3 separate regions of the Homo sapiens genome follow, and all the other regions are linked to region 3. The links come from fine-mapping of genetic effects on gene expression. A gene starts in region 3. Each other region holds a variant in brackets. All regions are shown on one strand. Distances are between the middles of the regions.

What was found. PIP is the estimated chance that this variant, and not a neighbour inherited with it, causes the effect. A credible set is the group of variants that fine-mapping cannot tell apart.
Region 1: its variant is the best candidate, but not a certain one, in a credible set for the expression of CHD5 in whole blood (TOPMed, PIP 0.51).
Region 2: its variant is the best candidate, but not a certain one, in a credible set for the expression of CHD5 in blood mononuclear cells (TOPMed, PIP 0.69).

What each region holds. Positions count from the first base shown.
Region 1 is chr1:6,155,517-6,158,253 of GRCh38, reverse strand. CHD5 (chromodomain helicase DNA binding protein 5) reads left to right here. Exons shown (of 42, transcript NM_015557.3): 4 at 2,537-2,655. Among named protein-coding and RNA genes, the nearest start is that of CHD5, 23 kb to the left of the region's middle. The variant C/T (reference allele first, on the strand shown) is at 1,534.
Region 2 is chr1:6,150,451-6,153,198 of GRCh38, reverse strand. It overlaps CHD5 (chromodomain helicase DNA binding protein 5), which reads left to right. Exons shown (of 42, transcript NM_015557.3): 6 at 663-787; 7 at 2,044-2,167. Among named protein-coding and RNA genes, the nearest start is that of CHD5, 28 kb to the left of the region's middle. The variant C/G (reference allele first, on the strand shown) is at 1,672.
Region 3 is chr1:6,178,558-6,181,305 of GRCh38, reverse strand. CHD5 (chromodomain helicase DNA binding protein 5) reads left to right here and starts at 985. Exons shown (of 42, transcript NM_015557.3): 1 at 985-1,361. The coding sequence starts at 1,283. RefSeq lists enhancers at 1,728-2,227, 2,228-2,729.

The sequences.
Region 1 (2,737 bases), 23 kb after region 3:
AACATGGGAAATGATGTGAAGGAAGCCAGGCCTTTATGGTCATGCTGAGGTGCTCCGGAGTCTCAGAGGCTGCACCCTGGGGCTCCTTGGGGAGATGGAGAGGCCAGGGGTGAGGTTGGTGGACAGGCAGTGGGTGAGTGACAGTGCCATTCAGGAACACTGTGCTCCCTTTGTTCTTTTAAGAGACACCAAGGCTCGGTTTGGGCTGGTCACAGATTTAAAGATAAACGCTCTGTAAATATTAGTACAGTTGCTGTTGGGTGAGGCAGAAATCATGAATGTGAATAACTGAAGTTGGGAGGTGTGGGAGGAGGAGCGATTCTTCCTGGCGGTGTCCTGACACCTGGGGTGATTTCATGAGTCAGTGGAGTGTTGTGAGTCACCGGAGACGGATCGTCGCTGCGGGGCTGACAGTTCTGAAAGCTTCACTTAAGAGAGTGATTCAGGATCACCCTGTAACAGTATCATCCCCTCGCTCACCTGCTGCTCTGCTGTCCTGGGTGGGGACCAAGGGGTCCGTGTGCCATCAGGAATGGCCATGTGTGTCCACGGGGGCAGGTCAGCCACAGAGGGGGCCCCATGTGAGGAATTCTCTGAGCTGTCACAGAACAGGAGGCAAGAATGGGCTCTGGAGGCCTCCCGCAGCCTGGATGGGCAGACTGGTTCTCAGTGCTGGGAGACGCTCAGGGCAGCCTCCTGTTGCAGGAGCAGAAGCCCAGCTCCGGGGCCTAGGCAGTAGAGGGATGTGTGGGATCAGGGCCCTGAGAACTAAGAGGCAAGGGGCTTCGGGGTTGTGGGACCCAGTGGTGTTATCAGAGGCTGTCTCTTTGCATCATTCACTCTGCCTCTGCTGTGGCAGTGTTGGGCTCAGGCCAGGCACCCTCATGGCTGAGCATTCTTGTGGCTGAGAATGAGGGCAGCAGCAGCTCGGGGCTTCTTGGCCCCTCCAGCAGGAGGGAGAGCAGGCCTCCCATGTCCAGGTATGCAGGCAGGAGACCAGCATTCCCTCTGATTGGACTGGCTTAAGACATGACTGGCCTGACCAGACTTTGGCCTAGGAGTGGTGTGTACTGATTGGCTTAATGTATCAGGTTGGGTGGGGGCAGCTCAGGGCTGCTTGGAAGAAGTGGGGTGTCAGGGAAGGAAGAAGAAGGGTGGGTTGGGTGCTAACAATTGCTAACGCATTTTGACACACCCTGTTCCAAGCACCTGCACTAAGTCATTCTGTTCTGCAAGGCAGTGTGCCATTATCTCCATTTTACAGATGGGGAAACCGAGGCAGGAAAGTTAAGTAACTTATCCACTTCTTACCACCGGTATGTGGCAGAGCCAGGATCAGAACCAGCCCATGCCCACATCCGGCACCTCCCTTTCTGAGCCCCGCCAGCCCGGGCCTGGTCATCTGGTCACCTGACCCCTGGGCTAGCTCTCTTGAGAACTCACTGTGCCCCTGGGATGTCCCCCCACCCCAGGCCTCAGCAGTAGTTGGATCCTCTCAGGGCTGTGCCCCCAGGATGTCCCTCCACCCCAGGC[C/T]TCAGCAGTAGTTGGATCCTCTCTGGGCTGTGCCCCCAGCTGGCCCATTGTCCCATGCCCCTGCCCCAGCAGAGTGCACTTTCCTTTCACTGGAAACTGGCAGTGGCCTGTCCTTCACAAGGGCTGACGTAGCTATACCTGGCATCCTGGGGAGGCCTCATGTCTTTTTTTTTTTTTTTTTTTTTGAGACAGAATCTTGCTCTGTCACCCAGGCTGGAGTGCAGTGGCGCCATCTCGGCTCACTGCAACCTCCGTCTCCCGAGTTCAAGTGATTCTCCTGCCTCAGGCTCACAAATAGCTGAGATTACAGGCACACACCAACACACCCAACTAATTTTTGTATTTTAGTAGAGACAGGGTTTCAGCATGTTGGCCCGGCTGGTCTCTAACTCCTGACCTCAAATGATCTGTCTGCCTTGGCCTCCCAAAGTGTTGGGATTACGGGCGTGAGCCACCACCCCTGGCCTGGAGGCCTCATGTCTTTCTAAAGTGGCTTAGGCAGCCCTGGAGCCCTGCGGCCTCATCAGGGACATCTTCCCGTCTTCAGGCCACTGTGCTGTCCTGCTGTCCAAATCCCCAGAATGCAGTCCCCACAGAGGGCAAGTTCTGTTGTCCTGCCCTGGTGTCCCGAGGCTGGTCGGGCAGCCCTATCTCAGGATGGGGGCCTGGTCTCAGGCATCCAGTCTCCTTGCCCACACCTGGCTGATTTCCCTTTCTGGAAGTTCAGGGCACACACATGGCCTCTCCCCAAACCCTGACGTCGAACACTTGGCCTGCACTTCGTGGGCTGGCATCTGAGACGTGGCACAGATTGGGGGCTGCGGGGCTGCGGGGCTGCAGGGCTTGAATGTTTCCTAGGGTGGGTGAGAATGGTCTGGTTACATTGCAGACACAACCCCTCCTCTTTCCCCTGTGCCAAAGCCTCCTAGGCAGAGACCCTGGGGATGGGGGTGCAGGTCAGAAGGCCCCTCAACAACTCTACCTCTGGCCTGGGTCTCTGTAGGAGCCCAAGTCCTCGGGGCAGCTCATGGCCGAGTGGGGCCTGGACGACGTGGACTACCTGTTCTCGGAGGAGGATTACCACACGCTGACCAACTACAAGGCCTTCAGCCAGTTCCTCAGGTGGGCGGGGCACTAGGGCTGTTCTCCAGGCCCGCACATCCTCTGGTGGTACCAAGTCGGGAGGGAGGCAGAGGAGTGAAGC
Region 2 (2,748 bases), 28 kb after region 3:
GGCTCCTAGCTCCATGTCCGTGTGTGTGGTGTGGCCAGAGGACGGCCTGGGGAGAGGCTGCCTCTGTGGGGTGTGCATCCCTGCCTCCAGGCCCCCCTTCCTTCTTGGGTCATTACTCCCCAGGTAGCTAATTGCCCTGTGGCCAGCTCCATAAAAACAGCCTCAGCCCTGCTGGCCCTTGCTGGGGTTGACTGGCAGAGGTGGGGCAGTCTTGGGTGGGACCAGCATTGCCTGGCTGGCAGGTGGGAAAAGGCCTTTTGGCTCCAAGACATCCTTTGGGGGCTCAGGCATGGACCACAGGTGGGCGGCTGTGCCTTCAGTGGCCCTGCTGGCTGTGGGGGATGGCTAGTGCCTCCTTTCAGTGGTTGGAGACGGTATAGGGGATCCTCCCAAAAGGGCCACATTTCTGTGGGTCATGGACAAGGGGCAGCAAGGCGGTCAGGGCAGCCTCCAGTCAGAGCCGTCATCTGGTTTTTGCCTCACTTGCTGTGTGATTTTAAGCAAGGGGTTTACCTCTCCAAGCCTCAGGCATCTCATCTGAAACGGGGTGATGGTAGAAATGACCCTTTCCTTATTGGGTAACCGAGAGCTCAGTGAGATGATGGCAGGAAGCAGGCCGTCAGTGGTGGCAGTGGTTGGCTATCATCACTGCTGTTTTTCAGGGCCTGGAGTGAGGAAGAAGATCAAAGGCTCCAAAGATGGGAAGAAAAAGGGCAAAGGGAAAAAGACGGCCGGGCTCAAGTTCCGCTTCGGGGGGATCAGCAACAAGAGGAAGAAAGGCTCCTCGGTGAGTGTGTGCGTGTGTGCGCGTGTGTGTGCATTTGCATGCATGTGTGTCTGCACATGAGCACGCAAGGGCCAGGCGAGGGCCTTCAGTTCATTACAAACTAGCTGGGGCAGGTCGCACCCCTCCACTATTCTCCTTCCATCCTACATGCAGGTGTGCTGGGCCTCAGTTTCTCCATTTGTGTGATGAGGAGTTTAGATTGAATCCTTCCAAGGGCCCTTCTAGCCTGGACTCTGGGCAGGGAGTGCTCCCCTGGCTCACCCTCCTGAGTGGGAGCTCAGTCCTGGCTCCTGCTGTCCACAGCTGCAACTCCATTTGGGCAGGAGGTGGAGGGATCTGTCCTGGTGGGGCCTGGCCGCCCAGCACCCAGGTCTGCTCTCGGGGGGAGTAGTTGGGTGGGGGCTGGACCCTAGAGAAGTGGTATGTGGGTAGGATCAGGCTGGCTGGAGCCCCAGTTACCTCCTCCTGTCCTCAGGGCCAGCTCTGGGCCCAGGCTCAGACACTAAGCCCAGGTCTTACTCAGCCTTGGGGCCCCCCTTTCTCTGTGAGTGTGAGGGGCATTCGCCCTCCTCACCCCCACAGGTAGCTGCCTCCCTCACCTCACCCCAGCCCTGCGGTGGGTGGAGTTGGAAGCTCTTTCCCTGCACCATGGCAGGAGCCAGTGTTAGGTCTGGAGGGGAGCATGGAGAGAAGGTGTGGCCCGCCCTGGAGCTGACGGTCCAGTTCAGCTTAGCAGATATTTGTTGAGCACATACTGTGTACCAGGCCCGCTGCTCAGCCACAGTGGGCCGTGGTCCTGTAGCACTCGTCACCTGGCAGGCATGTTTGCTGGTGGAGAGCCCGTGATGTACCAGTCAGACAGGACAGGCCAGACCTGGCACACA[C/G]GCAGCCACAGTAGGTCCAGTAAAGGAGAGATCTGGGAAGACTTCTTGGAGGAGGTGTCCCTAGGGCTGCCCCTTGAAGGATGTTTAGGAGTTTGGCAGGATGGAGGGCAAGGCCTGGGAAGCTGTTCAGAGGTGGAAATTGTGGGAAGTGTCTGAGGCTGGAGAGCAGGGCTCTGGGTAGGCGGTGGGACATCAGGCTGGACAGGCAGGCTGTAATGTGAGGTTTTCAGCTGTGTTGGGGGCTGAGATGAATCACAGAGAGCACTGTGTCTCCAGAGCCTCTTCCGTGCTTTGTCCCACCCCACACTGCCTGGGCCAGCGAAGCCTTCTGGGTGAAGCCCTGGGATCACAGGACCCTGTCTTCCCCTGCAGAGTGAAGAAGATGAGAGGGAGGAGTCGGACTTCGACAGCGCCAGCATCCACAGTGCCTCCGTGCGCTCCGAATGCTCTGCAGCCCTGGGCAAGAAGAGCAAGAGGAGGCGCAAGAAGAAGAGGAGTATGACTCCCCTTCCAGAGAGTTCTTGGCCTGCTGGGTGGATGTAGTGGGGCACGAGTAGGACTCCCCATCTGGACGGTTCTCGGCCTGCCGGGTGGATGTGCGGGGCATGGAACCTCCCCGTGGGAAGCAGGGGGAGGGCATCCTCATGTCTCAGCCAGGTGGGGCCCCTGTGTTTCCCACACGGCCCTGGTTTCTACTGTCTGGGGAGGGGCATCCTGTCCCAGTAAGGAAAGAACAAGGAACCTATGGTGGGAGCTACCCCAGGGCATTTGCATTAGCAGTGTGGTGACTGGAGAGGGAAGTGCTTCATCTCATCGCCATCCTCCCTTCAGTCACCCCCCACCCACTTAACACCCATCTTTACCTCACCTTCCTTCCCATCCCTCCTTCTCCCTCCTTCCCTCAGTCCCTTCTTTTTATCCATCCATCCTTCATCCATCCAGCCATTCATCCATCATCCATCATCAATCCATTTGTCCATCCATCCGTCAGCTATCCATCCACCATCCATCCATCCATCCATTCATCCATCCTTTTGTCCATCCGTCCGTCCGTCCGTCCGTCCATCCATCCATCCA
Region 3 (2,748 bases):
GAAGAAGGGAAACTGCTGCCGATCCTGCGTGTCTCAGGTGGGTTCCCCCAGTGCCCCTGCGAGGCAGTGAGAGGGGGCCCTCCCTTCACGGGCCTTCTGGGGTTAGAGAGCTGGCGGTCGGCCAGCCCCTGGAACTTTTGCGTTCTTAAGGTAGCTTTAAGACTTGCCGCCGCGGAGACTGGAGGCGCTCATTTAAAATTCCAGTCTTGCTCCCGAGGGCTTTGGCCTCCATCTTCACCTTTAACGACCGAGGGCTGGTGGCGGCGGCTCCTTCCTGCTCTGCGACAGGTGTCGCTTCTGAGCGGGAGTTTTGGGCACAGACATCGCAGATCCGCACCACCCCTAGGGGTCTGCATGGGTTTCAGCTGCACCCAGCCTGGAGGGGCTTTTTGGAAGGGGGCACGTGGGCGGTGGGAGCGGGGAAGCAGGTGAGGGGAGCCCGCCTGCGCGGATTTTTCTGCTGTAAATCAGACCCACAGTCTCCAGAGCGTCTTTTCCCCAAGTGTGGAACACATTTTTCTTCTAATCCTCTTTGGAGAGGGGGTTAGGAACGTGCCGAGGCCGGAGCCGGGAGCGGGGTGGGTCCCGGCGCCTGTGAACCGAGTGGGGGAGCGGGCCGCGCGCTGCCCTGAAGACCCTGCCTCCGCGCCCTTGGGGGCTCGGGGCCCAGCGCCTTCGCAGGCGAGCGGCGGCGGCTGGCTCTGCCCGGGGTGCGCGGGGGCGGTGTTTCCTCGCCTCCCCCTGCGCCCGGGCTCGCCAAGCCCCGACTGCCCGCTCGGCCGTCGGGTCCGCGGGCGCGCGGACGCCTCGACGGCTCCCCCTGCCGGGGCGCCCCCCGGTCCCCACCCTCACCCGGCGGCTCAGGACTAGTCCCCCAACTTGTTCTCTGCTGTTAACTAGTCGCGCTGCCGGAACGATGGGATGGGGTTGCCACAGCAACCAGACTGGACGTCACAATCCGGGCATGTGTGCCGCCCCCCCGCCGTGCCGCCGTGCCTCTGGCGCTGCCGCCGCCACCCTCGGCCGGCTGCGGGACTCGGGCTGCGGGGCGCGGTGGGAGGAGCGCCCGGGCTTTGCGGGGAGCAGGCTAAGGCGGCCGAGAGAAAGGGGGGTCGAGACGGGGGGGTGGAGGTTTGGGGGGGTGGGGGGGCAGGCGGCCGCCATCTTCTCGCCGAGGCCGCCTCGCCCGCCGCGCGCGCCGGTCCGGCAGCGCACGGGTTAAGGCTGGCACCGCGCCCGGCGGGAGGGGGGGCGCCCACCTCCCCTCCTCCCCGCGCCGGGCATGCGGGGCCCAGTGGGCACCGAGGAGGAGCTGCCGCGGCTGTTCGCCGAGGAGATGGAGAATGAGGACGAGATGTCAGGTGAGCGGGGCGCGGGTGCGCCTGGGGCCAGAGCGGCGGGGGCGCCGAGACGGGCCGGGCCCAGGGCGGAGCGCGGGCGGCGGGGGCGGCGCGGCCGGGCTGGCGCCTCGCAGGAGGGGCACCCGGGTTGCGGGGCTGCGCTCCCGCCCTGCTGGCGCCGCGCGGCCAAGGGCGAAGGCTGGGTGAGCGCCCGGGCCGGCGTGAGGGCGGCTAAGGGCGGGGTGCGATCCGGGCCCCCCGGGCGGCGACGCGGGCCAGGCGGGCCAGAGGACCGCGGGCCGGGGCCTGCGCTGGGGGGCGCGGCGCTGTCAGGGTCAGCCCGCGTGCCCTTGAAGGGGGCGGGAATCGCGCTAGCTCCCGGAGCGGCGCACCCCGCGCTCGCGTCCCGCCGCCGTGCGCCTCTGGCCTCGCTGCGGGCAGGCGGGACCCGGCCCCTGGCCCATGTCGGCCGCGGGGCGGGCTGGGTGGGGCCCAGAGAGGGGCGAGGACCGGCGGTGCTTGGGGACGCGTTGAGCGCCCAGGATGGGGCGGCTTCCCTCCCGGCCCAGGAGGACTCCGCTCTGGGACGCACGGGCTCGGACCCCTGCTCCTCTTTCCTGGCCTCTGTGCGCTGTGACCGCCGCTCCCAAGCACTTTACCCGGGCCGCCGGCGTCCTTCTGGCGCGACCTAGCGCCCGCCGCTGTCTCCAGCCTCACCATCGCCCAGGGTGGTGGCCGTTCCCAGCCCACCCTGCCTTGGCTACGGGCCTGACGCCCCAGGGCCACCGCCCCTGCCCCTACCATCTCTCTCCTTTTATCTCTCTCAGAATTTAGTATACACAGGGCTGTGCGCCAGGGGTTGCCTTGCGGGACAGTTCTTTAGTTAACTGCTCACCATTTGTTTGGGACGTTTTCCCTCCTGGCACAGCTGGGTAGGGCCCCACCCTGTCAGCCACCCTCCCTCCTTTCTGGGAGACTCTTACTTCTCGGCTTCCCTGCGCCAAGTCTGTGGCCTCTCTGGACTTCGGAGAGACTTGTGGGAGGCTGGAGGCCCTCCCGGGCCCAGGAACGTGCATCTGGCCCCTTCTGACTTCCAGGGGTGAGAAGACTCCACAAATGGACACCTCCAGCTCCTGTTGGAGGAAGCAGCCAGCGTCTTCTGGGGAGGGTATTCCCACCAGGTGGCCACACCCCCTGCCCCCTTCTGTTTGCTTGCTTGGTTAGTTGGTGGCTTTAATGCTGTCACTGAGCTCCTACAGGAGCCCGGCACTCACCTCGCCTGTTAGACAGGCCAAGTTGGCAGCGAGCGTGCTGGGGACGGGGAATAGGGGAGTCCTCTCTTGGGGTGGAGTTGCCTGGACAATAGTTGACTGTCATATCCTGGGTCCTTGGAATTAGACCCATTCTC